7 linked regions of the Homo sapiens genome follow. The protein of the gene in region 7 purifies or fractionates together with the protein of the main gene of each other region. This does not show direct contact. Each region holds a gene or a part of one and is shown on either strand. Other genes may lie near its edges.

Region 1 (3,500 bases), on a different chromosome or scaffold from region 7:
AGTGAGAGGAGTCCAGTCCACTAAGCCTGCTTACTTTTTTTTTTTTTGAGACAGAGTCTTGCTCTGTCGCCCAGGCTGGAGTGCAGTGGCGCGATCTCGGCTCACTGCAAGCTCCGCCTCCAGGGTTCATGCCATTCTCCTGCCTCAGCCTCCTGAGTAGCTGGGACTACAGGCGCCCGCCACCACGCCCGGCTAGTTTTTTGTATTTTTAGTAGAGACGGGGTTTCACCGTGTTAGCCAGGATGGTCTCGATCTCCTGACCTCGTGATCCGCCCGCCTCGGCCTCCCAAAGTGCTGGGATTACAGGTGTGAGCCACCGCGCCCAGCCCGAACACTTACTTTTATGAAATGACACCAAAGACTACAGTAGATACCACTCCTGACACCATCCTTGTCTACTTTCTCTTTAATGATCCACTATGGAATTATGCCCGTGTGTGTAATCAAATCCTTCTCAAACCCACCACCTAACTTCACTTCTCTGATAAGCACTCAGAAGACTGCTGGTGTGACTACTGACTATAACAATGGCTGACTTTTGTCAATTATTGATATTACACAGCAGAGTGCCAAATTAACAGGCAGTGGAGGAAGGGACACCACAACAAAGAGGACCAAGAGGCACAAAAAGAAAGGACTCTGGGAGGAGCAGGATGGCAGTGTCCTGACCCCAAGGAAGAACACATGGACCTGCTTCAGTGATTGCTCTGCCCTCTTCTCTTCCTGCATGCATTTCAAAGATAAAGCATCATGGTGTGGGTGAGTCTGCTGACAGGAACAGAATGTGATAAACTGGCCATGCACAAGCTACACAACAGCTCATATTATGCTTCTGATTAGCTCCAGCACATTCATCTACCCCTTCTCTATCCCCTACCCCTATCACTGCTTTAATTCTGACATCTGAACTCCCTGCCACTAGTCTCCTTTTCTTCCAACCCATTCATCGTACAGCTACCAAACCTGTCTTCCAAACAGAAGCCTAATGTGATCTGCCTGTTCACATGTCCTCCAAGTCAACTAAGACACCTACAGTATACAATTTGAATATGGCATATAAAGCTCTTCACAGTCTGGCCCATGACCAGACTGCATTCTCAAAATACTGGCCCACATGTAACTCCCTGACTATTCCAGCGTCTGTGCATTTGTATAAACTATTTCCTCTCCTTTACACTCCCTGTCTTGCCACCCGGCCATCAGGCAAACTCCTTCATCCTTCAGGCAGGACAGCTTTTTAAGTCAGCTGTCTTTCTGTAAACACAGGGACCTGGTTCCAGGACTTCCCCCATATGCCAAAATCCACACATACTCAGGTCCTACAGTCAGCCTTGTGGAATTCCCATATATGAAACATCTGCCCTCCATATAAATGTTTCACATTCTGTAAACGCTCTTTTTTATTGGCATTTGGTTGAAGTTCTAACCTCTGTTATTCATGAGTCAACTGTACTGGTCAATTCCCCACTTCTTCCCAATCTTCCTAGAAGCCCCAGCTGTACATGTCACCCTCTGGCACTACAGCCTGATACCAAAAACAGGATGCCAGCTCCTGGAGAGGAGGGACTATTATCCCTTTATTCACCTCTGGAACCGTTGCACATCCCTGACACACAGTATGTGCTCTGTTCAATCCTAACATTCTCTCAATCTTAGACTCACAGGATTTTAAAACTAGAGGAAACCTAAGTTACCATCTAGTCTCAAAGTCATAGGATTTGAGGGTAGGAAAAGACCTCAGGGATCATCTACTTTAAAACTTCAATTTATAGTTAAGGAAACTCAAGCTTGACATTAAACAGCTTGCCCAAATCAGACAAATGATCAGTATCTGATGAGAGAATAAAGTTCTGCTATCTGTCCAGGTTCTTTGTAGATATACACAAACTAATACAGTGGAATTTAGTAAGATCTTTTAAAGCCTGTACAATAGTCCAAAATAAACAAGATGAAACAAACACTTAGAATCCACATATCAAGTGCATAAATACAGGACTATAGAGAACTATATCCCATATTCTGCACTGGGCAGAGTACACTATTCCAGTGGATCACTGTCCCCAGCTCTGGGCAGGAAGGACACTTTAAGAGAGTCTCTAACAAACTAGGGAACATTAAAAAAAAAAAAAAAAAAAAAAAAAAAAAGGCAACCAGGATGGCAGATGGCCCTTTAAAAAAAAAAAAGTCATTTACAAATAAAGACATTTAACTTCAAAAGGGGAAGAATTATAGATAATATATGAGCTATCCTAGAAGTGACAATCAGAAGCTAGCAGGAAAAGAATTGTGGCTTAACACAGTTTACAATCTACTCTATCATGAACTAGAACGAGTTCCTTTGTCAGGTAGGAGTACTCCATAATTAGAATCTGATGATCAGGCCGGGTGTGGTGGCTCAGGCCTGTAATCCCAGCACTCTGGAAGGCTGAGGCAGGTGGATCCCTTGAGCTCAGGGGTTCAAGAACACCCTGGGCAACACGGCGAAACCCCGTCTCTACAAAACATACAAAAATTAGCCGGGTGCAGCAGAATGCACCTATAGTCCCAGCTACTCGGGAGCCTGAGGCAAGAGAAATCGCCTGAGCCTGAGAGGCAGGAGTTGCAGTGAACCAAGACTGCACCATTACACTCCAGCCTAGATGACAGAGTGAGACCCTGTCTCAAAAAAGAAAACCAAAAAAAAAAAAAAATGATGATCAGCATAGGACTAGAAGGATCTTCAGAGGTCTTGAGTTCAACCTCTTCATTTTATAACTGAAAAGACTGATGCTGAGGGAAAGAAGTGACCTGTCAAAGATCACAACACTGAGGTCAGAGGGAACAGTTTTTTTATTCTGGTTTTCTCAATTCTGGTCTCTGCTGTAACAAAATGCTGTCTTTCCCACAGTAGCAGAACGATCCACGAAGATGTTACAGAATTTAGTCCCAGAATTCAACTTTTAGGCAAAGCCTAGAGAGCTGGGCGTCCTTCCAGCTTTTAGGTTCTAGCAAAATTTCTTCCTAAATTTAAGAACTCCTAACCCTAACTAAAAATTAACTCAGAATTGTCCAGATTAACAAAAATTTCTTTTTGTCTTTGAGACAGATTACATCTCGTCTCTAAAAAACCTAAATTCTAATCATTGGTGCTCTGCCAGTCTATCACCCAGTATCCTTCAATGCAATGTTATGCCAGATGGTGTATCATACCTATTTCCCATCTCCCATTCAATTTCTTCTTTGAAGTCGAACACCACTGATCATCTTTTAAAACACATCTGATGCATAGTTTTTTAAATTAAAATTCAATAAGTAGAACATGTTCAAAGCTAAATGGGTTCTATTAGTCTATACACACTAGCATTGTTCTTTATCTTAGCGGACTTTTTTTCTTTTTTAGAGACAGGGTCTCGCTCTGTTGCCCAAGGTTTTGGTGCAGTGACGCCATCACAACTCACTGCAGCCTCATACTCCTGGGCTCCAGAGATCCCCCCGCCTCAGCCTCCTAAGTAGCTGGGACC
Region 2 (3,500 bases), on a different chromosome or scaffold from region 7:
TTTCGAGAAAGGTGTGGTTTCCATGGCAAACAACAGAACTACCAGCAGACCTCGCAGGAAACATCACGCCTAGAGAATTACAGGCAGCCGAGTCAGGCCGGGCTAAGCTGCGACCGGCAGCGGCTGCTCGCCAAGGACTATTATAACCCGCAGCCTTACCCGAGCTATGAGGGTGGCGCTGGCACGCCCTCTGGCACTGCAGCCGCGGTGGCCGCCGACAAGTACCACCGAGGCAGCAAGGCCCTGCCCACACAGCAAGGCCTGCAGGGGAGGCCGGCTTTCCCTGGCTACGGCGTCCAGGACAGCAGCCCCTACCCAGGCCGCTATGCTGGTGAGGAGAGCCTTCAGGCTTGGGGGGCCCCACAGCCACCACCCCCACAGCCGCAGCCACTACCTGCAGGGGTGGCCAAGTATGATGAGAACTTGATGAAAAAGACAGCAGTGCCCCCCAGCAGGCAGTATGCAGAGCAGGGCGCCCAGGTGCCCTTTCGGACTCACTCCCTGCACGTCCAGCAGCCACCGCCGCCCCAGCAGCCCCTGGCATACCCCAAGCTCCAAAGGCAGAAGCTGCAGAACGACATTGCCTCCCCTCTGCCCTTCCCCCAGGGTACCCACTTTCCTCAGCATTCCCAGTCCTTCCCCACCTCCTCCACCTACTCCTCCTCTGTCCAGGGTGGTGGGCAGGGGGCCCACTCCTATAAGAGTTGCACAGCACCGACTGCCCAGCCCCATGACAGGCCGCTGACTGCCAGCTCCAGCCTGGCCCCGGGGCAGCGGGTCCAGAATCTTCATGCCTACCAGTCGGGCCGCCTCAGCTATGACCAGCAGCAGCAGCAGCAGCAGCAGCAGCAGCAGCAGCAGCAAGCCCTTCAGAGCCGGCACCATGCCCAGGAAACCCTCCATTACCAAAACCTCGCCAAGTATCAGCACTACGGGCAGCAAGGCCAGGGCTACTGCCAGCCGGACGCAGCCGTCCGGACCCCAGAGCAGTACTACCAGACCTTCAGCCCCAGCTCCAGCCACTCACCCGCCCGCTCCGTGGGCCGCTCACCTTCCTACAGTTCCACACCGTCGCCGCTGATGCCAAACCTGGAGAACTTTCCCTACAGCCAGCAGCCGCTCAGCACCGGGGCCTTCCCCGCAGGGATCACTGACCACAGCCACTTCATGCCCCTGCTCAATCCCTCCCCAACGGATGCCACCAGCTCTGTGGACACCCAGGCTGGCAACTGCAAGCCCCTTCAGAAGGACAAGCTCCCTGAGAACCTGCTGTCGGATCTCAGCCTGCAGAGCCTCACGGCGCTGACCTCACAGGTGGAGAACATCTCCAACACCGTCCAGCAGCTGCTGCTCTCCAAGGCTGCTGTGCCGCAGAAGAAAGGTGTCAAGAACCTCGTGTCCAGGACCCCAGAGCAGCATAAAAGCCAGCACTGCAGCCCCGAAGGGAGCGGCTACTCAGCCGAGCCCGCAGGCACACCGCTGTCAGAGCCGCCGAGCAGCACGCCACAGTCCACGCATGCGGAGCCGCAGGAGGCCGACTACCTGAGCGGCTCCGAGGACCCACTGGAGCGCAGCTTCCTCTACTGCAACCAGGCCCGTGGCAGCCCTGCCAGGGTCAACAGCAACTCGAAGGCCAAGCCCGAGTCCGTGTCCACCTGTTCTGTGACCTCTCCTGACGACATGTCCACCAAATCTGACGACTCCTTCCAGAGCCTACACGGCAGTCTGCCGCTCGACAGCTTCTCCAAGTTCGTGGCGGGTGAGCGGGACTGTCCGCGGCTGCTGCTCAGCGCCCTGGCACAGGAGGACCTGGCCTCCGAGATCCTGGGGCTGCAGGAAGCCATCGGTGAGAAGGCCGACAAAGCTTGGGCTGAAGCACCCAGCCTGGTCAAGGACAGCAGCAAGCCACCCTTCTCGCTGGAGAACCACAGCGCCTGCCTGGACTCTGTGGCCAAGAGTGCGTGGCCCCGGCCTGGGGAGCCGGAGGCCCTGCCCGACTCCTTGCAGCTGGACAAGGGCGGCAATGCCAAGGACTTCAGCCCAGGGCTGTTTGAAGACCCTTCCGTGGCCTTCGCTACGCCTGACCCCAAAAAGACAACTGGTCCTCTCTCCTTTGGTACCAAGCCCACCCTTGGGGTTCCTGCTCCAGACCCCACTACAGCAGCTTTTGACTGTTTCCCGGACACAACCGCTGCCAGCTCAGCGGACAGCGCCAACCCCTTTGCCTGGCCAGAGGAAAACCTGGGGGATGCTTGTCCCAGGTGGGGATTGCACCCTGGCGAGCTTACCAAGGGCCTGGAGCAGGGTGGGAAGGCCTCAGATGGCATCAGCAAAGGGGACACCCATGAGGCTTCGGCCTGCCTGGGCTTCCAGGAGGAGGACCCCCCTGGGGAGAAGGTGGCCTCGTTGCCCGGGGACTTCAAGCAGGAGGAGGTGGGTGGGGTGAAGGAGGAGGCAGGTGGGCTGCTGCAGTGCCCCGAGGTGGCCAAGGCTGACCGGTGGCTGGAGGACAGCCGGCACTGCTGTTCCACCGCCGACTTCGGGGACCTCCCACTGCTGCCACCCACCAGCAGGAAGGAGGACCTGGAAGCTGAGGAGGAGTACTCCTCCCTATGTGAGCTCCTGGGCAGCCCCGAGCAGAGGCCTGGCATGCAGGACCCGCTGTCACCCAAGGCCCCACTCATCTGCACCAAGGAGGAGGTGGAGGAGGTGCTGGACTCCAAGGCCGGCTGGGGCTCTCCGTGCCACCTCTCAGGGGAGTCCGTCATCCTGCTGGGCCCTACAGTGGGCACCGAGTCAAAGGTCCAGAGCTGGTTTGAGTCCTCTCTGTCACACATGAAGCCAGGTGAAGAGGGGCCTGATGGGGAGCGAGCTCCAGGGGATTCCACCACCTCGGACGCCTCTCTGGCCCAGAAGCCCAACAAGCCTGCTGTGCCCGAGGCGCCCATCGCAAAGAAAGAGCCTGTGCCACGGGGCAAAAGCTTACGGAGCCGTCGGGTGCACCGGGGGCTGCCCGAGGCCGAGGACTCCCCATGCAGGGCACCAGTGCTGCCCAAAGACCTCTTGCTCCCTGAATCCTGCACAGGGCCCCCCCAGGGACAGATGGAAGGGGCTGGAGCCCCAGGCCGGGGGGCCTCGGAAGGGCTCCCCAGGATGTGTACTCGTTCTCTCACGGCCCTGAGTGAGCCCCGCACGCCCGGACCCCCAGGCCTGACCACCACCCCTGCACCCCCAGACAAACTGGGGGGCAAGCAGCGAGCCGCCTTCAAGTCGGGCAAGCGGGTGGGGAAGCCCTCACCCAAGGCTGCCTCCAGCCCCAGCAACCCGGCCGCCCTGCCTGTGGCCTCCGACAGCAGCCCGATGGGCTCCAAGACCAAGGAGACAGACTCACCCAGCACGCCTGGCAAGGACCAGCGCTCCATGATCCTTCGGTCACGCACCAAAACCCAGGAGATCTTCCACTCCAAGCGGCGGAGGCCCTCTGAGGGCCGGCTCCCCAA
Region 3 (3,500 bases), on a different chromosome or scaffold from region 7:
CTTTCTGTGTCTTAGAAGTGTTGAGTCAACTCTGGTTATTATTTATTAAATCATAATTTTAAAATGTCAAGAGATTACTATTATTGTTATTTTTACCAGATGTGATTTTTCTTGGTAGGTTGGGTTTAATTGCTGTGAGTGGTTTACAAAATCATAATTTTCTTAATGCTTTAGAGACTGAAAAGAAGTCACTTGTTTGTGAGTAATATTGGGTCCACACTCTTGAAATCCAAGAAGCTTAAAAATCCAAGTGTTTTGTAAGGTTCACACAAACTTACTTGATGGCAAAGCCTAACGGAACTGGTAGGAGTTTATTTGTAGTATTTATTTCTCATACTCTGTAAATAGGATTTATACTTTTCTCCGCAGAAATAATGTTTGATTATAGGATAATACCATGGACTTCACTGGGGGTATTAGTGTAATATATGGTGCATGTTCCATGTTACCCTTGAAAATCTGAGAAATTATGAATTCTGAAACACATCTGGTTCTTAAAGTTTCAGATAGGGAATTGCTGACCCGTATGATATTGCTCTTGTATCCTATGCAAGGTTGTTTAGGATAAGAGTGTTTTTTTCAGAACAGTCCCAAGTAAGCTATGGATACCTACATGACAGTTGTGAGATTGATAATGATTTCATAGGGTCAGTCAGTATCTGTTAAATGTTAGTGTTTATTTTTTATGCAATTTTGCTTGCAGGATGTTTTTGTTAGCAGTCATTTGTATGTGACTTGTGGGGTTCACTAGATACCAGATACTAATTACAGACAGCTTCCTTCAATTTTAGTGCTTAGTTAATTACAGAGGTTAAGCCTAGTTGAGTTAATAGAAATTAAAATGATGTGGAAACACTTTACTTTTTCCACCATTTTATCATTACCTTTTTCTTGGCTATAGGTGCAAAAAAATTCATCATCCTGTGGATTTTACTGGCTAAGACTTAACTGGTTTCTTCCCCATCTCCTACTGCTCCCTGTCCTCTTTCCCTCCTCCCATTTATTTCTCGCTTCAAAGATTTTAGATTGTTATTTACTTAATTGGGTACAAAAAGAATGATTACTGAGTACTTACTGAGTAATGATTACTGAGTTACTAAGTAGTGTTGGGTTGAGAGGGACTGGGCTGCCCTAGGCAGGAGTGGAAGAAACCTGCTAGAAAGCTTACAGTCCTGTGAGCTCTTTAATGTCTTCAGCCTAACTTTTTAGTAACCTCTGTGACTGCTCATTTTCAGGATGGACTGCTTTATTCATCAATTTCTTCCATTCTAGAGCATATAGTAGTTACTGCGTAGAAGTTTTGAAAGTGTAGTGACTCTTCTTTTATTGATACGAACAGTATCCTAATAAACAGGAAGATTGATAATTTCTCTTGCAACTTCCTTTTTCTGTGCCATTGCTGTTGTCTCTTTTCACCTGTGTTCTTGGTATTCCTAAAATTTGTTTGGTATATTAGAGTTGTAGTATAAGTTGACTATCATAAATATCTATGCTTATTTTACTGGGTAAAGAGTAAAATAAATGAAGCAGTTTTATGGGTTAGATTTATCTTGTTTTGGTTTTGACTCAATACTTACAAGTCCATATAGTTTATAAAAGATGTTTAAGGGAGGAAGAATTTTGTCTGTATTATCAGTAAAATTAAAATCAAGTGCCCAATCTTAAAAGAAGCACATTTACTTTAAAAAATAATTGCCTTTTCAGTACCAAATATTGCCATATGACACAAATTAGTGCTTCTCTTTTTAAAGCATATTTTAATTTAGGGTTATCTATATTCATCTTCATTAGCACTATACTGAACTAAAACCATTGTATCAACTTCATTGATTTATTATTTGATCAGGTTGGGAATGTCTACCATTCTTTGACTTAAATTTGTTTATATTGTTTTGCAAGTTATTCACAAATTTTGGTGGTTTCATTTGTGTCAGCGTTGTGTGTGTGTGTGTGTATGTATATACATATGTGTGGTTTTTTTTTTCTCATATTTTCAACAGATTCTGAAGGGAGTGGTAATGGAAGTGAAGATGCTTCAAAGGACAGTGGAGAAGGTTCCTGTAGTGATTCTGAAGAAAATATTTTAGAAGAAGAACTGAATGAAGATATTAAAGTAAAAGAAGAACAACTTAAAAATTCTGCAGAGGAAGAAGTACTATCATCAGAAAAACAATTAATTAAAATGGAAAAGAAGGAAGAAGAAGAAAATGGAGAAAGACCTAGAAAGAAAAAGGAGAAAGAGAAGGAAAAAGAAAAGGAAAAGGAGAAAGAGAAGGAAAGAGAGAAGGAAAAAGAAAAAGCAACAGTATCTGAGAATGTGGCTGCTTCTGCTGCTGCCACCACACCAGCCACAAGTCCTCCTGCTGTTAACACATCCCCTTCTGTTCCCACTACGACAACCGCTACAGAGGAACAAGTCAGCGAGCCAAAAAAATGGAACCTTCGACGAAACCGACCACTTCTGGATTTTGTGTCCATGGAAGAGCTGAATGACATGGATGACTATGACAGTGAGGATGACAATGATTGGCGACCTACTGTAGTAAAGAGAAAAGGGAGATCTGCGTCTCAGAAAGAGGGAAGTGATGGAGACAATGAGGATGATGAAGATGAGGGAAGCGGGAGTGATGAAGACGAGAATGATGAAGGCAATGATGAAGATCATAGTAGCCCTGCCAGTGAAGGGGGTTGCAAGAAGAAGAAGAGTAAAGTTCTTAGCAGAAACAGTGCTGATGATGAGGAACTGACCAATGATAGCCTGACCCTATCTCAAAGCAAGAGTAATGAGGTAGATCAACCCAATTTTTATATCTGTCTGTCTGGGGAAAAGGGAATTCTTCTCTAAATCACTCTACACATTGTATTAAGTGGCTTCCTTGAAATCCTATTTATAGACGGCTGTGGGATGAATGAGCACCCTAACTGTAACATTTTTTCATTTGGCCAACAGACTTTTATTAAATATCTACTATTTGTCACCGTTCTCAAGGAGCTCACAATCTCTGTCCTCAAGGAGAAATATTTAGAGAAATATTTTTATATCCATAGACTTGGGAAATGACAAAGTTTTCCATTCTCCTTTTTATCCCTTTACTCCTTTGTTCACAGGACTGCTGAATGGTGCTGAGTGCATTATGAAAACAAAGGTCACCTTTCTTTCAACTTAGTTGTGTCCATATCCATATTAAAATATAGGCCTTTAGAATACCTTAGAGCAGGGCAACAGTCTAATGATTTTCTGAAACCTTTAGAGATTCGTTTTAAATATTAATTCCTTTACCAGTTGTAGCACTCATCATCTTTTTAGTCACCAAATCTTTGCTTTATGTGTATGGGACATACACATAAGTATGAACTATTTTTACATATATTTAGTAAATAAATTCTCTCTACAAAGAAATGGAATAAAAACCCAAACATTTCCATCATAAAACAGACATTTTTGTCACAAAACTGCAGTAATGGCTCAGTGCTTCTACTTGAAGTTCTACTACTGAAAG
Region 4 (4,049 bases), on a different chromosome or scaffold from region 7:
GGACATCCCCAAGGAGAGTGCTGGCTAAAGGTCTGGAACTTTAAATCTTTAGAGTTCTTTACTTAGCACATCAATCAGATATTTACCTTCTGCTTCTTTGTTCTTTAGCCCTGCTCCTGGGGGAAATCTCCATCTTAACGGGGCCTCAGTTTGAAATTGGGGTTCGGGATCCTAACTTAATGACTGAGCGTGCCTGGGTTCCACCCAGTCGCAATTGGTCAAGACTTGGTCCTCTCAAGGCCTTTCCTCCGGAGAGGTTAAATCCTCAACGCCTGCTCTCCACTTTCCAGCCTTTTCTTAAGGCTCTTCTTTCAGCCTAGTATCTGTGACCAACTTCTCCTTCCTAGGCCCTCTCATTATTATTTAAATGTCCATTCTTTTGGGGGCTTCAACTTCACTAAAAACATTCCTTCCTCTTCCTCCGCCTCGTAACTCTCTGCTCAAGCATCTGGATGCCAGAGGTCATTTGAGCTAAATGGGGTTCAAAGCTTTTCTGACTCTGGTACTGCATTCCCCACTTTCAAATCACATTTTTCACCCCAGGGCCCCCAGTGGTCTCAAACCCAAACACAGTGCGGTTAGGAAGTGGGCACTCGCCACAGAGCTAAATTGGGAATTATTTGACCTGCAGCTTCTGGAGAATGGTTTTGCCTCCTCCCCGCGACATCAACTAACTCACTTGCTGTTAGCTAAGGGCAAGGACAATGTCTCCTCTACCAGACAGGAAACTTGATGGCGGACGCTATCCGTTAGTTCCTTTTTCAATTCCCCATTCCCACCCCTTCGAGACCACGATGTTTCTTAAAATACAAAGTTTCTTTTACAAAACATCCCTCCGCAACTTTGAGTTTATATAATAAACGGAAACGTCCTTTAAACAATCAGGCTACGAAGGGGTTAAATCTAATCTCAGCAACCTGATGGATTCTGGGGGGTTTCCTTCCTCGACTCTAGAAATTAAAACGAAATTTTGCCCAAGGTAAAGATGAGAACCGTTTACATCAACTGTCAGGCTTCTGCCCCAAACAAGAATGGCTACCCACGCCCACAAACAGAGCCACTCACGTAACTAAAAATGGTTGGCTCCGGGTTCCACCACTGGAGTCACTTTCTGCCCAACTTCAAAATGGCGCCCACTAGCTTCACCAAAAGGATCGAACTTCCCAGCACCCTCTCTGGCCCGTAACGTCAGGTGACGCGAGACCCAGCCGGAAGTGAAGGAAAAAGCGCTTCAGCCCGCGGCGCCTGCGCAGAACGCTCCAGACGCTGAGAGGCAGGAGGCACTAGGGATCGTCCGCAGGATTGGGACTGATACAGAGGCCGCCACGGAGCCCGCCGGAGCCACCGTTCCTGCTGCTGCCGCCGCTGCCCGAATCGGAACCGTCGGGCCGCAGCCGCCGGCAATGCCGCGAAGGAAGGTGAGAAACGGGAGAGGAGGGATGGCGGGTTTCTAAGGACAGTCGATTGAGCACCGTGACGCAGTTGGCCACGCCTCACAGTGCTTGGGTCCCAACTTTCCGCTCCCCCGAACCTTGTTCAGCTACCCTCTCTTCTGTCCATACCCAACAGAAAAATGTGGGCCCGACCCTGGCCTCGGCCTATGCTTGCAACTATTCCCGCCCTCTGCTTGCCTGGATCGGAGGCGTTCTTATTAATTGGTCGCTGAAACGTCTGGAAGCATATTGATTGGCTGGTGACGCCGCCTGTTTGGGCTCAACGGTCACCTCCCCGCGTGCGGGGGCGGTGTCTGGCCCCGGCCCCAGCGCTCTCCCACTGGCTGGAGAGAACGATCCCTCCTCTCCTGATTGGTCGAGGTTGGCAGTCTGTCCTGTGGGGGCGCGGCTTAGGCGGACCTCGATTGGGTGGCCCGAATCCCCGCCTTTCCGAGCGGGGACGCTGATAGGTGCAGAGGCGGGGTTTTGGAGGCCTCGTTACCTTCCAGGTGAGGGGCACAACAAAGCAGAAGACTGGGTGGTGGGAAGCCAGCGCCCACTCGCAGGGGATCCCTCTCAGGCCAGTTGCCTCTTTCCTTATTTGCTAGTTCGACAGCGCCTAGAAAATGCAGTTGGTAAAAACTAAAAACTTCTAGAATTAGAAGGCACTTAGAAGATCACCCAGGAATGGCCCCGTCGTTTCTTCTTACAGCTGAACTAACGGAGGCCCATGGAGTGCCGCAAGCCACTCAGGCAGTGGCAGATCCAGAATATAGAACAAATCTAACTCAATTCAACAAATGTCTATTGACTACTTTCTGCGCGGTGGTTGCTGTGGATTCAGAAATTAATTAGATGTGATCCCTGGCTTAAGGGTGTCACAGCCCGATAGGAGAAAACAGACATGAATAATCTTAGAAGGATCTAGTAAGTTCTCAGCTTGGAGGTGTATACAAGGTGTTGCTGGAAGGAAGTGAAGGAGCAGTTAAGTCTGCCCTGGAGTACAATGGGAGATATATTGGTAAAAGCCACAGAGAAGAGCTGAGTTCCAGGATCAAGCCAGGAAGGAATAAGTCTCACGTCAAGGCTTTAAATATCTCGGTAATTAGACTATAATGGTGACTTTTAAGATTCCCCCTTCATTTCAGCCGTTTTCTGTGATTCTTGCTCATTTCCTGGCAGGTTACCCTTAAGATACTTGGAAAACTGGGTGGTATTCTTGCTCATATCAATAGAAATCTTTCTCTTCACAGCGGCTTTTCAGGTTGAAAATGTACACTTTTTAATGTCTCCTAAAATGACCTCAGCTGGTGGGTGGTATGTATGTGTTTTTTTGTTTGTTTGTTTTTGAGACGAGGTTTTGCTCTTGTTGCCCAGGTCGGAGTGCGATGGCGTGATGTTGGCTCACTGCAACCTCCGCCTCCCGGGTTCAAGCGATTCTCCTGCCTCAGTCTCTCTAGTAGCTGGGATTACAGGCGGATTCCATGACGCCCAGCTAATTTTTGTATGTTTAATAGAGACGGGATTTCACCATGTTGGTCAGGGTGGTTTCGAACTCCTGACCTCAGGTGATCCACCCGCCTCGGCCTCCCAAAGTACTGGGATTACAGGCATGAGCCACCACGCCCGGCCGGTGGTATGTATGTAAAGGCTCACCAAATGCAGGAATAATATTGGTGCCTTGAAATAGGGCCACAGTCCTCTTTCTTAATTTCCCAAATACCGGGAGTTACTTGAAAATGTACATTTTTTTAGTAACCTGTTTGGCGGCAAACCTGTCTTAATCTGTCCTGAGGCTACTTATGGTTTTTGTGTGTCTCATTTAGTGTGACTGTTTATATTTTTTGCTGCAGAAATACTATTATGTTTTGTTATTGGGTGGTATTTGCAGGATACATGCAAAGTACTCCCCTTCTAAAAATCCAAAACAATTACAAATTCTAAACACAACTGGCCCTCAGGGTTTTGAATAAATAATTGGGACTTACAGTGTGAATCTTTGTATTGTTTTCAGTAAATATTTTTTCCTTTCTGGTTTTGTAAAGGGTATAGTGTTAGTGCTTAATTGATAAAAGTTATCTTTATGGCTAAGAAAGAACTCCTCAGGAGGATAATAATTGACAAATCCTTGCTCATTGAAAAGATGGTTTTGAAAACAACTGTTTTTGAATACCCATGAGTCTTCATGTGCAAGCTGCCTTTTTGGAAGATAGATGGCTTTCATGTGGAGAAACGTCAAGGATAGATGGCATACGCACTAACAATTTTCATCTTTTTCTGCTTAAATTCTTTTGGGATTAGAGTTGTGGTCCATGATATTTTGAGATAGTGTATGGTTTTTAAAAAATGTGATAGCTTTTCATGGAGACATTGAACAAAAGCTACTCTAAGTTAAATGAGGTCCAGCACCAACGATTTTCTCACTACAGTGGACCTTTTTTTGTGATATTGATCTCCAAATGGTCTTGGTTAATACTTAGTACTAATACAGTAAGAATTAATTCTCTTCATGGCCGGGTGTGGTGGCTCACGTCTGTAATCCCAGCACTTTGGGAGGCCAAGGCGGGTGGATCACCTGAGGTCAGGTGTTCAAGACCAGCCTGGCCAACATAGTGA
Region 5 (3,500 bases), on a different chromosome or scaffold from region 7:
GTAATTTGACCCTCCCTCCTCAGGGTTTGTTGGTTTTGCTGCTTATCATTGTCATTGTTGCTATTTGTGTGTTTAGTGACTTTCCTAACAAATTCTGTAAAACCTGTATTCTTTGTTGTGTTTGGACTCTGAAGTCTCTGCTCGGTCAGCTTAGTTGGTCAGTGGAAGATGAGAGATTTCCTTGAATGTCTTGAACCACCGCATCTCCCAGTCTTTGCCTAGGAGCTCTGTGTGTGTGTTGGAATGTGCCTCCAACCCCCTGGCAGGCAGTCTGCAATTTGCTGTAGCCTTTACTTCCTGCTTGCACAGAGCCTCCAGGGCAGCAGAGGCGAGCGGTCAGGGCCTTGGCTGTCTTTCTTGGGCATGTGCACTGCTCTGGTGGCCCTCTAGAGTCCCAGCTTTTCCTTTTAAGCTTTTTGGTCAGTTTCTTGTTTGTGTCAATCGTTACTGCTGTCTTGGTTGGTGGGATGTTAAACAGTTGTCACTGATGGTTTTTGACAAACGCCCAGGGGAAAATGCTGTTCACGTTGAGTGAGCTCAACTCAATACTGAGTCAGAGCAACTAAAGACAAGCCTTGCAGGTAGACGTTTCCAGGGAACTGCTAGACAGGTCAACTAGGGCCAGTACCCTGGGAGTGGAACTTCCAACAGCTCCCAACCCAGTCAGCCTCCTCCCATTTTTACAGCTACTGTGGCAGGGGGGCTCTTGGTTTTCAAGACTCCCTCAGATCTGGGGAGAGGGAGACGGGAAATTAAAACTCACAGAACTCACACTCTTAGTGAGGTTCAGGCATTTGAACAGCTCGAGGAGCATTTCCAGAGTTCTGAAAAAGTTGATTTTTAGGATTTTTGCCAGTGTTCTGTTACCTTTATGGAGGAGCAGATTTTTGGAGGCCCTTACTCTTCCATTCATCCCTTTAGATTTTAACTTTCAAACAGCACTGCATTTGAAGTATGTTTCCTGTACGTCAAATGTTTGGGTTATGTTTTTTAATTCATTCTGACAGTCTGTCTCTTTCTTGATATGTTTGGATTCAAGGCTACCATTTAATTTGTTTTTTGTTTTCATTTTTGTGTTTTTGAAGCAAGATCTCACTTTGCCACCCAGGCTGGAGTGCAGCAGTGCAATCACGGCTCGCGGCGGCCTTGAACTCCTGGTGGGCTCAAGCAATCCTCTTACCTCAGCCTCTTGAGTAGCTGGGCCTACAGGTGTGTACCACCATGCCTGGCTAATGTGTTATTTTTTTGTAGAGATGGGGTCTCACTATGTTGTCCAGGCTTGTCTTGAACTCCTGGGCTCAAGTGATCCTCCCACTTCAGCCTCCCAAGTAGCTGAGACCTCAGGCCTGTGCCACCACCCTCAGGTAATTTTTGTATTTTTTATAGAAACTAGGTTTCACTATGTTTTGAACTCTTAAGCTCAAGTGACCCTCCCGCCTTGGCCTCTCAAAGTGCTGGGATTTCAGGCGTGAGCCACCATGTGAAGCTGCCGTGGTTTTTCTCTGGCTGCTTGTTTTTTTTTTGTTTGTTTGTTTGTTTTTAAGTTGGAGTCTTGCTCTATCACCTAGGCCGGAGTACAGTGTGCAATCTTGGCTCACTGCAACCTCCACCTCCTGGGTTCAAGCAATTCTCCTGCCTCAGCCTCCCTAATAACTGAGATTACAGGTATGCACCACCATGCCCAGCTAATTTTTATATTTTTAGTAGGGATGGGGTTTCACTATATTGGCCAGGTTGATCTTGAACTCCTCACCTAAGGTGATCCGCCCACCTCAGCCTCCCAAAGTGCTGGGATTACAGGTGTGAACCACCACACCTGACCTTAGTTCTATTTTTAATTTTTGTGTAATCACCATACTTTTCCATAGTAACTGAACCATTTTAACGCCCACCAGTGCAAAAAGGCTATAATTTCTCCACATCCTCACCAACACTTATTTTCTGTTTTTTTTTTTGTTTGTTTGTTTTGTTTTTAGGTAACTATCCTAATGGGTGTGAAGTGGTATCTCACTATAGTATTGATTTGCATTTCCCTAATGATTTGTGATGTTGGGCATCTTTGTTGTTGTTGTTGTTTTGTTTGTTTGTTTGTTTGTTTTTGAGACGGTCTCGCTCTGTCGCCCAGGCTGGAGTGCAGTGGCGTGATCTCAGCTCGCTGTAACCCCTGCCTCCACCATGCCCGGCTGATTTTTGTGTTTTTAGTAGAGATGGTGTTTCACCATGTTGGCCAGACTAGTCTCGAACTCCACCCACCTCGGCCTCCCAAAGTGCTGGGATTACAGACATGAGCCACCACGCCCAGCCAGCACCTGAACATATTAAAAAATGGTTAATACCCCATGATTGTACATGCTTTGTACCAAATGGGAAGAATAGAGTGTTCTAAGGATAACCATCATAAAAGTGGTTTGGGCTTGGACTCTGGCTCACATCTGTAATCCTAACATTTTGGTAGGTCGAGGTGGGAGGATCTCTTGAGCCCAGAAGTTTGAGACCAGCCTGGTCAACAAAATGAGACCCCATCCCTACAAAATATTTAAAAATAAGCAAGGTGTGGTGGTGCACACCTGTAGTCCTGCCTTCTTGGAAAGCTGAGGTGGGAGGATGGCTTGAGCCCAGGTAGCCGAGGCGGCAGTGAGCTGTGATTGCACCACTGCACTCCAGCCTGGGTGACAGAGCAAGAGCCTGTCCCAAAAAAGAAGTGGTTTGTATGCCACTTATCTTGCCTTCTCAGTTTCCTTATTTTTCATTTTGTGAGAGTAAGCAAGCTTTTCCAGTTATCTGCTGGAAAGAAATGGGAGTAATGTGGTAATACCGAGTTGCGCCCCAAGGTGGCTTTGGTGCGCCGTGGGTCCTGGATGGACTCAGAGGCACAGATCACTCAAGCTATTTTGGCTCTTCTCCTAAAAAGCAGGAGGGGCAGCTGGCTGGGTGTTCTGTTGTTGGAGAGGACATCTCACCGCTTGTTTTCTGTGCTGATCCAGTAGCTCAGGGAAGACTCCCGGCAGTGTGGGACTTGTGTCTGAAATGACAGCATAGGATGACATTAAGCCAATGTGGATTATTCTGCAGCCTTGAACTCCCCAGATGATGTATTCCCACACCACTCTTACTTATCCTAACATAGGCCTGCCCATCAAAGAAATCCAGGGCGCCCTTAGGGGATTTGTTACTAGGTACATCTAGAGCAGAGCTTCTCCACAGTTGCACTACTGATGCCTCAGGCTGGAAAATGCTGTGTCCTGAGGGGCTGTGTCTTGGTCACTGCAGGGTGTCTCGTGGCATCCTAGTGTCTACCCTCCCGAGGCCAGGAGCACCCACCTTCCCCCAGTCATCAGCAATTGGATGTCTCCAGACACGACCAGATGCACCCCAGTGGGGGAGGAGGACGGAATTGTTCCTGTCTGAGAGCTCCTGATCTAGGGGCAGGTATCCAGTGTCCAGAAGGCACTCAGCATGTGTTTGGATCAAACTGTTTCTTTCAGAGCCAAAATCCTTCA
Region 6 (3,390 bases), on a different chromosome or scaffold from region 7:
CGGTGTGCTTTTAGTTCTGCTGGAAGCAGAATGTCACAGGAGCGTATGAACAGAATCCTCAGTTATGTGACATAGGTAGCTGGTGCTGGTAGTTCAAGAAAGGGGGAAGCCAGAATTGTTGGTGCAAGTTTCCCTGGGTGGAGCCTCATAGAAGGTAGACCTGTATGAGTACACCCAGCTGTGAGGGTGGGAAAGAAGGCGGGTTCCCAGGCCAGCTGGGACCATATCCTCAGACCTCTTTGCCACTGAACTGGCCGAGGCCTGGCTGATCAGGCCTTTTTCTATGTTAGATCAAGGTTCAGCAGATTGCCATGGAGATGCAGCTGACTCCTTTCCTCATCCTCCTTCGCAAAACCTTGGAGCAGCTCCAAGAGAAGGACACAGGCAACATCTTCAGCGAGCCGGTCCCTCTGTCTGAGGTAACCGAATTGGACGAAGTAAGAATCCCTTCCCCTCACTCCACCTTCTCTCTGTTCCTCTCCCAGTTGGACCCCTGCTGCAGGTCTGGGCCAGGACTAGATGGGGACCTTGAAGAGAGGGGCTGGTGGCTCTGGGGCAGGATGAACTGGAGCCACATGTATCACCTGGACTCTGTCTTGTCCCTGTCACACCCCAAGGGCCCAGAATGGGAGGCAGTCTGCACTCCTTCCCCAGAGGCAGGGACTGAGTCTGCCAAATGAATAATCCCAGGGCAGGAAGACACTTTCGGGGTGCTGAACCCTAGAACGGAGACTTTAGAAGGCTCAGCACCTAAAGAACCAGCTCTGAAGCCCTAGGTCCTGACTGGCAGACTCTTCTCTCTAAAAGGTATAAAATGAGAGGCCTGAGGCAGCAGCCTCCTTATAAGTTACTGTTAAGTAAAAAGAGCTGTAGGAATGCAAGGTGGTGTTTATTTTCAGAGGAGTCCCCAAGCCATTTTCTTACTAAAGCCTCATATAGTCTAGAAAGTATATTTGGCTCTACTTTCATCATTTTCCAGGAGAGGAAAAGTAGGCCCAGAGAGGTTAAGAGACTTGCCAAAGTCACACAGCTTGTGACTGGTAAAGTCAGGACCAGAATCCAGCTTTCCTTTCCCCTGTGCTATATGCCTGCCTCTAACTGTGGTGGGAGGAGGTTGCTGGATGTGTTTCAGGGGGGCTTGTTAGGAGCAGGGTTCGGGGCAATAAGGAGGATATCTCCACTTAAAACAAACCTGCCCTGCCCTTCCAGGTACCTGACTACCTAGACCACATCAAAAAGCCCATGGACTTTTTCACCATGAAGCAGAACTTGGAGGCTTACCGCTACCTGAATTTTGATGATTTTGAGGAGGACTTCAACCTCATCGTCAGCAACTGCCTCAAGTATAACGCCAAGGACACCATCTTCTACCGGGCAGCAGTGCGGCTTCGTGAGCAGGGTGGTGCTGTGCTCCGCCAGGCCCGGCGCCAGGCAGAAAAAATGGGCATTGACTTTGAGACGGGCATGCATATCCCCCACAGCCTGGCTGGAGATGAGGCCACACACCACACTGAAGATGGTGGGTGATATATCACACACACATATAAGAGGCCAATGCCGGGGATGGACAGCTTTCCAAAAGTCCCCTCCTGGGAGCAGGCAGTGTAGGCAGAAAGCAGCTAGGCTGAGCAGTGGCAAGCTATCCCCAGGAATGCTCCCCAAGAAGCCAGACTGGGTGAATGGATAGCAGTGCCCGCCATTCCACATCTTGGTGCTGCTATTTTACAGCTGTTCCTGGTGAGAAGCCCAGGGGGGATGAGTGGGTTTCTTGCTGCCTGCCCAGGTTCAAGGGGCCCTGAGGGCTGCCCTGAGTCTGACCTTTCCCCTCCAACCCTACCCCTAGCAGCCGAGGAAGAGCGGCTGGTCTTGCTGGAGAACCAGAAGCACCTGCCAGTGGAAGAACAGCTAAAGCTGCTTCTGGAGCGGCTGGACGAAGTGAATGCCAGCAAGCAGAGTGTGGGCCGCTCACGGCGTGCAAAGATGATCAAGAAAGAGATGACGGCACTGCGGCGGAAGCTTGCCCATCAGCGAGAGACGGGACGTGATGGCCCTGAGCGGCATGGCCCCTCGAGCCGGGGTAGTCTGACACCCCACCCGGCAGCCTGTGACAAGGATGGGCAGACAGATAGTGCGGCAGAGGAGAGCAGCAGCCAGGAGACAAGCAAAGGTCTGAATCCCATGGCAAGGTGGACCCCAAAGCAAGTCAGACTTTGGCTCTGCAGCACACACTCAACCCCTGCCATTCCCCAGGCAGAGGTCCCTCCTACACAGCTAGCTGTACTTTCTCCCTCATTCCCCAATCAGGGGCCTCTTAGCTGCCTCTCTGGCTATTTGTATAAGAGTTAATCTTCCAAATTCCAAGCCCCTAAAATGATCTCCCCAACGTTAGCTGGAGTAATGGTCCTATATGCCCAGGGCATGACCCTGGATATCTACCCTTCTCAAATCAGGCCCCTCACCAACTCTCCTTCTTTCTTTCTCTGCTCCAGGCCTGGGTCCCAACATGTCCTCAACCCCCGCACATGAGGTGGGCAGGAGAACCTCAGTTCTGTTCTCCAAAAAGAACCCGAAGACAGCTGGACCGCCCAAGAGGCCGGGCCGGCCCCCCAAAAACCGGGAGAGCCAGATGACCCCCAGCCACGGAGGCAGTCCTGTGGGGCCCCCCCAGCTCCCCATCATGAGTTCCCTGCGTCAGCGCAAGCGGGGTAGGAGCCCCCGGCCCAGTTCGAGCTCAGACAGCGACAGTGATAAGTCCACAGAAGACCCCCCAATGGGTGAGCCTTACCATCACCCAGCCCCCCAAGAGAGTGAGCAAAGCTGCCATTCTTCCCAGCATACTCCCAGTTACCCCTTTATTTGCCCATAAAAGAGCGAGCTAGAAGGGTCCTTAGGAATCCTTTAACTCCACTCACTCATCTTACAGTTGGGAAAACTGAGGCCCAGAGACACTACGACCCAGCTAAAGTCCCATCCAGGGCCCCCTGCCTCCATTGTATCACTTTACCTTTTCTCTTCTCACCTTCCTTGGGGATCTCCTGCCCTTTAAGCCATTTGTGTCCTAAAGCCAGTAACTGCCGAGGGAAGCAAGGGGTGGAGCAGGGCTGTGGCCAACTGTGGTAGACACTGCCCAGAGCTAGCTCTGCTGGCCAAGGTTGGAGGAATTTTCCAGCACAGAAGGGGAACCCAAGCTCCAAGTCCCTCTTACCTCCATGTCATCTCTGATCTACATCTTCCTGACCGGTTCCTTCCCTCCTCCCCTTCCCTTCAACCAAGACTTACCAGCCAATGGCTTCAGCGGTGGAAACCAACCAGTGAAGAAGAGTTTCTTGGTATACCGTAATGACTGCAGCCTTCCCCGGAGCAGCTCAGACTCTGAGTCCAGCAGCAGTA
Region 7 (3,430 bases):
AGCAAAGACTTAATTGTGAAAATGCACAAACCTAGAGTAATACGTTTAAGTTCCACGTTCTGAACTCTACCCCATCCTCTGTGCTATCAGAATAAAACCACACTTGATGACATGAGTTGATTTTTTTCTGAGCCCTAATGGTTTCTCCTCGTTGGAGCTAGTTTGTTAACTAAATCAGAAATCAATTTGCTTTTTGTGTAGGTGGTTTTATTCTGTTAGGTAGAACTAGTCATTGTTAAACTTCTGTTTATCACTTCCTACTGTTAGGAATGATGGAACTATCAAATGTTATTTGATGGCTTTAGTTTCTGATCAGATTAATTCTTTTCCTTCCGTCTTTTTGACCTGCTTTTTATAAACAACTTTTATCATAAACAACTGTTAGTTTACCAAGCAATTAAGGATGTTGTGCATATTCTATAGCATGGTGCTTCTTCTTTACAGGTATTACTGCTAACATCATAGAGTGTTGGTAAAAACTGATGGGAAATACTGTAGCATAGTGTAGTAACTTATGACCAGTTTAGAAACTGAGATAGATTTACCTAGGGATATATGTGCTCCCTTGTGCCCACCTTGGTTTTTAGTAAGTTGCATATTGTCTTTATAGATTTTATTCTTACAGATTGTTGTATTTTGTAGCTGACTTTTATTAAAGACATTTTTTTCTCTTCCCTTCCCCAAATTATTTTTCTATTTTCAGTGACGCCAAGTCCAGTGAAAGGCAAAGGGAAAGTGGGTCGCCCCACAGCTTCAAAGGCATCAAAGGAAAAGACTCCTTCTCCCAAAGAAGAAGATGAGGAACCGGAAAGCCCGCCAGAAAAGAAAACATCTACAAGCCCCCCACCCGAGAAATCTGGGGATGAAGGGTCTGAAGATGAAGCCCCTTCTGGGGAGGATTAAAAGTGATGATGGTCTGGGGAGAGATTTTATTAAAAAAAAAAAGAAAAAAAAAGAAAAAAGAGGGAGGAAAAAAAAGAACCTACTTAAGATAGAACATGGTTTTGGCTATGGCTTGACTCATGGGCTTTCAGTGCTTTTTTCCATTTGTTGAAAGTAACATTTCTCTCTCTCTCTCTTTTTTTTTTTTTTTTTTTAAAGCAAACCATTGTATGTGTAAGTGTTTAAGTTACCTTTTTGTCTATTGGTCTCTTTGCCAGCCCTCCCCTTTCCCAATGAAAGCCATGTCAAATTAATCACTGGATTGACTGCTTCATCTTTTTATTTTTAATGAAAGGTGTACCACGGTTGTAAAGCAATAAGATTTGAGATGAACACTATTGAAACTTCGCTTTTTGCTAAAAAATAGCAAGTTGAATAGTAATCAAAAAACATAGAAAGATTTTAGTTCAAAATGATTGCTCCTTTCTCTACCTGGACTTTTAAAAAATCAATTGTCATCTAATATGAGTTTATTTGTCTATAGACACAAGTATCAATGTCTAAAAAAAATCATGACTTTAAACTTCCACCGATGAGGCAGGTAGGAGATAAAGATGAATTCTGAACTGTTACTAAAAGTACTCATTTTTTACCTTGTAGGGAGGGTGGGCAATGGGGTTACCTGACCTTATTTGAGGGTATGGGCTTTCTTTTTTATTTCATCACTTGTTATCTCAAAGAGACTCGGAGCCAGTGATCCTTTTATCCTGCTACAGTCTTTAGGGAGCTAAAAAAAAAAAAAAAGCAGGGGCTGCCAAAACTCTTGATTTCATATTTCCTTCTCTAAATATATATGTATCCTGTTTTTTGGATAAAATTTTACCAAGAATCCAAAAAAAAAAAAACCCTAGAATTTAATCAACAAGATCAGTCTACAGGTCACAGTGGATTTCTTTTCAAACTGACAATGTTTAGGTTTTAAGCAAATAAAGTTCCAGTTAATGTGAAACTCAGTCACAAAGAGTTGAGATTTTTCCTTTATGAAATAGAATTGACATTCTTTTATGCTATAAATGTGCATTCAGGTCCCATTAACCATGCTCTGCTTTTATTTGGGGATAGAACATTTTCTTTTTCATATCCCGATCTTCCCATTTCTTCATAGAAATGTGATAAGAAGTACATCCCTGTGATCCTGCTGCTTCGTAGAGCACCACTGCACACCCTACCCCGAGTGCCAACCACCTCTGCTATAGGACACTATTTTCCTGGCCCTATTCTTCACTTACTTCCCATCCTGTCCTTGACTAGGAATATGTTAAATGCTGCTCCCATACAATTCAGTTAGCTCTTGTCTTTTTATTTGGTCCAACCCCTGCTTTACTGCTCATGCTGCTTAAAGCAGGAGGGACTAGAGAAACAAGGCATTTTAGGAGGCCTGTGTGCAGTTGAAAACCGACTTTTACACGCCTTATAAAAGCAGTCAGGAGATAGATCCGTAGGTTTGATCCTTCACATCTAATACCAGGCGCTAATGGGAACAAGGTTTAAAGGGTCCTGGTATGCTAATAAATTGAAAAATTAGTGAAATTTAAACTTCTGCCTTTTTTTCCTGCCTTTTAATCTAGATTTGCTTCCTCAATATCCTACTTTGTGGTTTACTAGGAACATGCTTACTCTGATCTTTTTTTAAAAAACACACAGTGGCAGAGTCATTTCACTATTGCACTGTGTGTTAAAGAATGAATAAGGAGTTTTCAGTTACATGGCCAAAAATACAGGACTTGAACATAAATAGCAGTTGGATCATTCTCTTTCATGACGGTTAAATTCAGAGGTGTGAACTTTGTAATGAGGGTGTTAAAGATTAATCTATTTGCCTAAATGGGTTTGTTCAGGTATCCATTTTTAACAAAGAAGTTTGTGTTCATATAGTAAAAGACCTATCAGTGTTTCCACCATGCACTTCTATTTTTTAGGAGTTTATAATTTTAAGTCTTACATTCCTAGTAACATTTGGGCTTTTCTTAGGTTATGTTTCGTGAAGATTTGGGGGGAGGGCTCTTTTAAAACTTCAGCCTCAGTTGTTTAACAGTCTCTTTAATATATTAATCTGCACTAACATCTCTGTGATATATGCACATATTTTAGAGGTAATCATGTCTTCTAGATTACTTGTGTGCATTTGATTGGGCTTCTTGTTTAGGGTCCCTTTTAAAATTAATTCATTAGATTGAAAAATGTATTCTATATTTCTGATAGACTGGACAGAAGGATCTGTGTCCCCAAGTGAGACAGGCTCTGAATAACCTTTGTTTTCTCCACTTTTTATTGATGATTTAAAACACTCTAGTCTTCCCCTCAAATCATGCATGCAAATAGGAGGACAGTGGTGGTGACTCAACTGGATACAGGTGCTCAATAGTCAGGCTTGATAGTGATGTCAGGACGCATTACAAGCTGTAAGCCGATACTGACTGGCCATTGGCACCATCCTTGACTAACCTTCCTCTTTTTCTCTAGTGTGCCTATGGTGAAATGGCAATAG

Evidence for each region.
Region 1: the proteins of NUCKS1 (region 7) and CHAMP1 purify together in Homo sapiens (affinity purification with mass spectrometry; one large-scale study listed by BioGRID and IntAct). This does not show direct contact.
Region 2: the proteins of NUCKS1 (region 7) and RAI1 purify together in Homo sapiens (affinity purification with mass spectrometry; one large-scale study listed by BioGRID and IntAct). This does not show direct contact.
Region 3: the proteins of NUCKS1 (region 7) and PHF14 purify together in Homo sapiens (affinity purification with mass spectrometry; one large-scale study listed by BioGRID and IntAct). This does not show direct contact.
Region 4: the proteins of NUCKS1 (region 7) and KAT7 purify together in Homo sapiens (affinity purification with mass spectrometry; one large-scale study listed by BioGRID and IntAct). This does not show direct contact.
Region 5: the proteins of NUCKS1 (region 7) and PRKRIP1 fractionate together in Homo sapiens (co-fractionation; one large-scale study listed by BioGRID). This does not show direct contact.
Region 6: the proteins of NUCKS1 (region 7) and BRPF1 purify together in Homo sapiens (affinity purification with mass spectrometry; one large-scale study listed by BioGRID and IntAct). This does not show direct contact.

Annotation. Positions count from the first base shown.
Region 1 is NC_000013.11:114,317,503-114,321,002, reverse strand, and holds part of CHAMP1 (chromosome alignment-maintaining phosphoprotein 1), read right to left. Parts: intron 1-3,500. UniProt on the Homo sapiens protein: Required for proper alignment of chromosomes at metaphase and their accurate segregation during mitosis. Involved in the maintenance of spindle microtubules attachment to the kinetochore during sister chromatid biorientation.
Region 2 is NC_000017.11:17,792,958-17,796,457, forward strand, and holds part of RAI1 (retinoic acid-induced protein 1), read left to right. Parts: coding exon 1-3,500. UniProt on the Homo sapiens protein: Transcriptional regulator of the circadian clock components: CLOCK, BMAL1, BMAL2, PER1/3, CRY1/2, NR1D1/2 and RORA/C. Positively regulates the transcriptional activity of CLOCK a core component of the circadian clock.
Region 3 is NC_000007.14:10,980,372-10,983,871, forward strand, and holds part of PHF14 (PHD finger protein 14), read left to right. Parts: intron 1-2,000; coding exon 2,001-2,788; intron 2,789-3,500. UniProt on the Homo sapiens protein: Histone-binding protein. Binds preferentially to unmodified histone H3 but can also bind to a lesser extent to histone H3 trimethylated at 'Lys-9' (H3K9me3) as well as to histone H3 monomethylated at 'Lys-27' (H3K27ac) and trimethylated at 'Lys-27' (H3K27me3).
Region 4 is NC_000017.11:49,787,432-49,791,480, forward strand, and holds the start of KAT7 (histone acetyltransferase KAT7), read left to right. Parts: upstream 1-1,249; 5' UTR 1,250-1,403; coding exon 1,404-1,418; intron 1,419-1,631; exon of another isoform or gene 1,632-1,679; intron 1,680-4,049. UniProt on the Homo sapiens protein: Catalytic subunit of histone acetyltransferase HBO1 complexes, which specifically mediate acetylation of histone H3 at 'Lys-14' (H3K14ac), thereby regulating various processes, such as gene transcription, protein ubiquitination, immune regulation, stem cell pluripotent and self-renewal maintenance and embryonic development.
Region 5 is NC_000007.14:102,409,863-102,413,362, forward strand, and holds part of PRKRIP1 (PRKR-interacting protein 1), read left to right. Parts: intron 1-2,815; exon of another isoform or gene 2,816-3,022; intron 3,023-3,500.
Region 6 is NC_000003.12:9,741,735-9,745,124, forward strand, and holds part of BRPF1 (peregrin), read left to right. Parts: intron 1-290; coding exon 291-437; intron 438-617; exon of another isoform or gene 618-807; intron 808-1,209; coding exon 1,210-1,519; intron 1,520-1,843; coding exon 1,844-2,167; intron 2,168-2,489; coding exon 2,490-2,774; intron 2,775-3,273; coding exon 3,274-3,390. UniProt on the Homo sapiens protein: Scaffold subunit of various histone acetyltransferase (HAT) complexes, such as the MOZ/MORF and HBO1 complexes, which have a histone H3 acetyltransferase activity.
Region 7 is NC_000001.11:205,715,753-205,719,182, reverse strand, and holds part of NUCKS1 (nuclear ubiquitous casein and cyclin-dependent kinase substrate 1), read left to right. Parts: intron 1-703; coding exon 704-903; 3' UTR 904-3,430.